Linked DNA regions of Homo sapiens: region 2 is linked to region 1. The links come from fine-mapping of genetic effects on gene expression. Tissue or cell type: whole blood. Region 1 holds a variant in brackets; the other region holds the start of a gene. All regions are shown on one strand. Distances are between the middles of the regions.

The links. PIP is the estimated chance that this variant, and not a neighbour inherited with it, causes the effect. A credible set is the group of variants that fine-mapping cannot tell apart.
Region 2: LRRC14 starts here. The variant in region 1 is the best candidate, but not a certain one, in a credible set for the expression of LRRC14 in whole blood (TOPMed, PIP 0.74).

Annotation. Positions count from the first base shown.
Region 1 is chr8:144,475,179-144,477,800 of GRCh38, reverse strand. FOXH1 (forkhead box H1) reads left to right here and starts at 1,952. Exons shown (of 3, transcript NM_003923.3): 1 at 1,952-2,218; 2 at 2,540-2,622. The coding sequence starts at 2,045. RefSeq lists enhancers at 818-1,711, 2,608-2,622. The variant CCTG/G (reference allele first, on the strand shown) is at 1,085.
Region 2 is chr8:144,516,651-144,519,323 of GRCh38, reverse strand. LRRC14 (leucine rich repeat containing 14) reads right to left here and starts at 1,332. Exons shown (of 4, transcript NM_014665.4): 1 at 1,283-1,332. It overlaps RECQL4 (RecQ like helicase 4), which reads left to right and starts at 1,491. Exons shown (of 21, transcript NM_004260.4): 1 at 1,491-1,623; 2 at 1,689-1,722; 3 at 1,816-1,910; 4 at 2,134-2,274; 5 at 2,560-2,673. The coding sequence starts at 1,540. RefSeq lists silencers at 877-1,046, 1,137-1,886.

The DNA.
Region 1 (2,622 bases):
AGTGCTCCAAGGCTCCCGGGACGGTGGTCATTGATTTATGCTGGACAAAACCGAGTCATCGCGGGCAACGGGACGGGCGCCAGCGGAATGGGTGGCAGCTTTGGGGGTGGTTTCGGGCCCAGGACAGTGCGGTCGGAGAAGAGCGGTCAGAACTTGGGGAGCCTCCAGCGCCCCACCAAGGAAGCGCCAGTGGAGAGGGGGGTGCCTTAAAACTTACGGGAGACCGGGCGCGGTGTCTCACGCCTGTAATCCCAGCACTTTGGGAGGCCGAGGCGGGCAGATCACGAGGTCAGGAAATCGAGACCATCCTAGCTAACCTGATGAAACCCCGTCTCCACTAAAAATACAAAAAAATTAGCCGGGCGTGGTGGTGGGCGCCTGTAGTCCCAGCTACTCGGGAGGCTGAGGCAGGAGAATGGCATGAACCCGGGAAGCGGAGCTTGCAGTGAGCCGAGATCACGCCACTGCACTCCAGCCTGGGCGGCAGAGTGAGACTCCGTCTCAAAAAAAAAAAAAAAATTATGGGAAAGGCCCGGCCCGGTGGCTCACGTCTGTGATCCCAGCACTTTGGGAGGAGGCCGAGGCCAGTGGGTCACTTGAGCCCGGGAGACCAACCTGAGCAACATAGGCAGGCCCGGTCCCTACCAAAAATTAAGAAATTAGCTGGGCTCTGTGGCGCACGCCTGTAGTCCCGGGACGCTGAGTCGGGAGGATCGCCCTAGCGGGGGAGGTGGAGGCTGCACGGGGCCCAGATCGCACCACTGCACTCCAGCCTGGGCAACAGAGTGAGACCTTGTCTCAAAACAACAACAACAACAAACACTTGTAGGAAAGAACGACGCCTTGCTGACCGAATGGGGTGAAGTGGCCACAAGTATTAGCCTCATGAGGCACAGGATTGTGCAGCCATAACCTAGGGAACACAGCAGAGAGGTGGTGGCAGGAGTCCTGAGGGAAACCACGTGGCGTCTGAGGGGAGAGTCAGAGATAGAAGGAAAAGGGGCACCACCCGACCGGGGGTGTGGGGGGCAGGAGCAGTGTGGTACCCCACATACAAGGCCCCTTGCGGCCCAGGCCTCCTCCT[CCTG/G]GACACTTGCTGCCTGTCCCTCCCCTCCACACCTCAGGGTGTGCTGGACCCCACCGTATGCTGCAGATTTTCAGCCCTTTGAGGTTATCATGGTGGAGGCTGCACAAGAAAAGCTGAATTCTCAGAGTGAAGGGCAAAAGCATATCCCTGGGCCCCCGTGTGTCTGGGGGCCCTTGGCCTGGTGCCAGCACCAACCACCGCTGCTAATTCCCAGAGCTGCTATCCTCTTGGGCAAACTTGCCCCTTGTGAGGGAGGAGAACCTGGGCTTTGGGGCAGGATACACAATACCAGCCTTGCTTGGGTGGAGGAGCAGAGATGGCTAGGGAGGAGGAGGTGAGCGGTCCACCTGGGCTCCTGAAGCAACTCCCAGGAAATCAGTTGAGTCAATGTGTCCCCCTCTTGTTCCTAGGGTGCGGGCTTCATGGCCTTCTCCTCCAGGAAGCTCCACCTGATCATGTCCTGGGTGGATATCCAGCCCCCATAGTTCAGGGCCTACTAGCAGCTGCTAGATCTTGAACTCCAGGAGCGCCCCACGCCTTGGGAGCTTGGCATGGGCTAAATACTCCCCCATTTGTTAAATGGGGTCCTGAAACCTGACCAGGGAAGACGGGATAAAGTAGCCATGGGTCATCGCAGCCCCTTTGAAGCCGGGCCTGGCCACCCAAAGGCAACTCAGGGGTGGAGACTGAGGCCTCAGGAGAAGCCCCCACTAGAATGCTCTCTGCCCCTCCCTTCCAGATTAACCAAAACCTGCTAATTGTGGAAGCCCTCGGCATGCTCCCCTCCCCCACAGCCTCTTCCTCCCTTCCCTCCCCTCCCCCTTCCATCCGAATGATAAAGGCCCCAGCCCGCCTGCCCCAGCCCGGCCTCAGGTCCCGGCCCTGCCTTCTACACTGCCCCACCGCCCTGCACCCTCCACCCGGCCAGGCCCCTGCCCACGCTGTCTACCGTCCCGCATGGGGCCCTGCAGCGGCTCCCGCCTGGGGCCCCCAGAGGCAGAGTCGCCCTCCCAGCCCCCTAAGAGGAGGAAGAAGAGGTACCTGCGACATGACAAGCCCCCCTACACCTACTTGGCCATGATCGCCTTGGTGATTCAGGCCGCTCCCTCCCGCAGACTGAAGCTGGCCCAGGTGAGCGGGCCCCGGCCCCCACTCTCTCTTTCCCCAGACTCGTTCCCCACCCACTTCCAGGTTCAAGCCCTGACCCCCACCCCTTCCTAGCCCACCCAGGTATGCCAGTGGGACCAGTCCTGAGAGCTGAGGGCCTCAAGGCACGACCCTTCTCCGGGAGCCCCTTGCCCTCTCTGCCGCGCTTCCGCGCAGAAATGTCCTTCTTCGGGGACAGCAGGGGCCGGCACCGCGCGCCCCTGAGCCCGGTAGTGGGGGAGGGGTAGGGCGCTACCCCCTCCCCGTCTGGGCTCACGGCGCCGGCCGGCCGCCTGGCGGTTTCAGATCATCCGTCAGGTCCAGGCCGTGTTCCCCTTCTTCAGGGAAGACTACGAGGGCTGGAAAGACTCCATTCGCCACAACCTTTC
Region 2 (2,673 bases), 41 kb before region 1:
AATAAAGCCCAGGACTCTCCCCACCAACCTTCATCAGCATTAGTATTGACGGGACACTCTAAGGAGTCAAGCAGCCAAATCACCTTTCCCTCCCCTCTCCTCACAGATGCTCTCCAGGGCTACACTTGGACTCCACAAAACACCAAAGAGCTGGAAGCACAGAAGCAGCTTCATAAGCAACAAGGCAGGTTGAAAAGACCGAGACCCAGGGAACACCGAGTCCAGATGATGTAGCCTATAAAATACAAGCCCCCGCAAAAGCTACTATTCTCCAGAGCGTCACCAAGCACGGAGACCCCGAAAGAAAGCAACCCTCACCTTTGTTGGCCCTTACCACTGGCCTAAACCTCTCCCTCTTCCCTGGAGAGCCACTGTGGAAAGACCAAGTCTTAAGTATGTGGGATTCAGAAGGTGCAAAGCTACAGACTGCTCAGACAAGGCAAAGAAAGCTGCCTCAGCAGCACCCAAGCTGCAGAGATGCACAAACACTCCCAAGGCCACAAGGTACCTGTGACACAGGGTGCCAGCCCTGCTGCTGCCTGTAGCATCCTCAAAACTAAATCGCAGCCATCTCCCTGTGACAGATTAGAAAATGAAGGCCTCGGCCTGGCCCAAGGTCACAGCCTGAGTGACAAGCCAGGGAAGGGGGCCGGGGAAGACACTCTGGCCCCAAGGCCCTTCTTTTTGTCGACTTTTCCACATACAAGTAAGTCCTTAAGGCACCGGTTCCTGAAAAGTCCCAGACACCAACCCTCGGCCTAGTTCTGCCGGTGGACAGATCTCAACGATCATACTCGCTCTGACAGGACAGACCAACCGAGCACTTGTCACGGGAGAACACCAAAGCAGACGGCCTGCCCACCAAGGGAGGCAGGCACCTCCGTGCGACGCCCCCTCCCCTCCCGCCGGCCGCAGGGAACGCGACGGTCCTCGGTCGCCTGCGTTTCGCGAAGACGCCCCCGCCCGGCTCCTCCGGGCCTCGAGCCGCGGGAGGCGCTGGACCCTCCGCTCTTTCGCCTCCCGAGCGGGGCCTGCTCCTCCAGGTCGGATGCGTCTCCCACCAGGGCCTGACGCCGCTCCGACCGGCCCGGGGACTCCCAGTCCTTCCCGGCCCGCGGTGGCACCTCCCAGGCTCCCGGCCTCGGCCCCGGGCTCCCAAATGCAGCCACTGCCTCCCTCGGCCAGGCCGCCCCGAGCGACCGGTGCCCCGCCCCTTGAGGCCAGGCAGGGCCAGGGGCGTGCGCCGCCCCGCTCAGACACCCCCCCGGCCGCCCGCGCTCACCGGTCCCGCAACCGCAGCCACCGCCTCCAGCCCCGCCTAGACCGTCCGCCGCTCCCCGCCCGGCGCCGCGGCGCCCCGCGATGACGTTGACGCCTCCCATTGGCTGCTTGTCCGAGGCCCGACGGACTGGCTGCCCAGGGGCGGTGGCCCCGCCCCCGGCCCGCCGCGCATCCGCATTGGCTGTCGGCCCCCGCGACGGCTGCGCGGGAGATTCGCTGGACGATCGCAAGCGCGGAGGCCGGGCGGGCGCGCGCGCCATGGAGCGGCTGCGGGACGTGCGGGAGCGGCTGCAGGCGTGGGAGCGCGCGTTCCGACGGCAGCGCGGGCGGCGACCGAGCCAGGTGCGGGCTGCCCAGGGGCCGAGGGGCTGAGGGCGCGGCCCGCGGCTGACGCGTTCCCTTTACAGGACGACGTGGAGGCGGCGCCGGAGGAGACCCGCGGTGAGCGCGCGGCGGGGCGGCGGGGGCGAGAAGACACCGGGTCGGCAGGGGCCCAGGCCCCACCCTGACCCCGCCTCCCGCTCGCCCACGCAGCGCTCTACCGGGAATACCGCACTCTGAAGCGTACCACGGGCCAGGCCGGCGGCGGGCTCCGCAGCTCCGAGTCGCTCCCCGCGGCGGCCGAAGAGGTACCCAGGCCCCGCCGCCCCAGCCTCCTCCCACTTCCCTGTTTGGCGGAGTGGCGGGAGCCACGGAGTCGCGGCCAGGCCGCCGTGGGGCACAGAACTTGGGAGGGGGACTGGGCAAAGTGAAGAAGGGCCGGGCCTCGCTCCAGGTGCGGGAGGGGTGGCTGGGAGCGCTTCTGCCGCCACAACAGCCTTTTCTGGCCTGTGCCCCTGTTGTCTCCTGCAGGCGCCAGAGCCCCGCTGCTGGGGGCCCCATCTGAATCGGGCTGCGACCAAGAGTCCACAGTCTACGCCAGGGCGGAGCCGCCAGGGCTCGGTGCCGGACTACGGGCAGCGGCTCAAGGCCAATCTGAAAGGCACCCTGCAGGTGAGGAGTGGGCAGGCAGTGAGTCCACGCTAGGTCCACAGCTGCTTCCGGTCCGGGTCGCCCTCTTGTCATTTTTTCCACACAGACAGGCACGGGCCCCTGTGCCAACCAGGGCACGAGTCTTCAGGGAGCTTCTCGGGGCCTTCGCCCTTGACTCCCTTTCTAGTCCAGCCTTGTGCTAATTAGCCTGCTCTACAATTGAGCGTGGGGACTCAGGTAGGTTTTAGAGTCTACAGTAGCTCAGGGGCCTGAGTTCCTCCTGCTGTTCTGTTGTTCCCCTCCCAGGCCGGACCAGCCCTGGGCCGCAGACCGTGGCCTCTAGGAAGAGCCTCATCTAAGGCATCCACCCCAAAGCCCCCAGGTACAGGGCCTGTCCCCTCCTTTGCAGAAAAAGTCAGT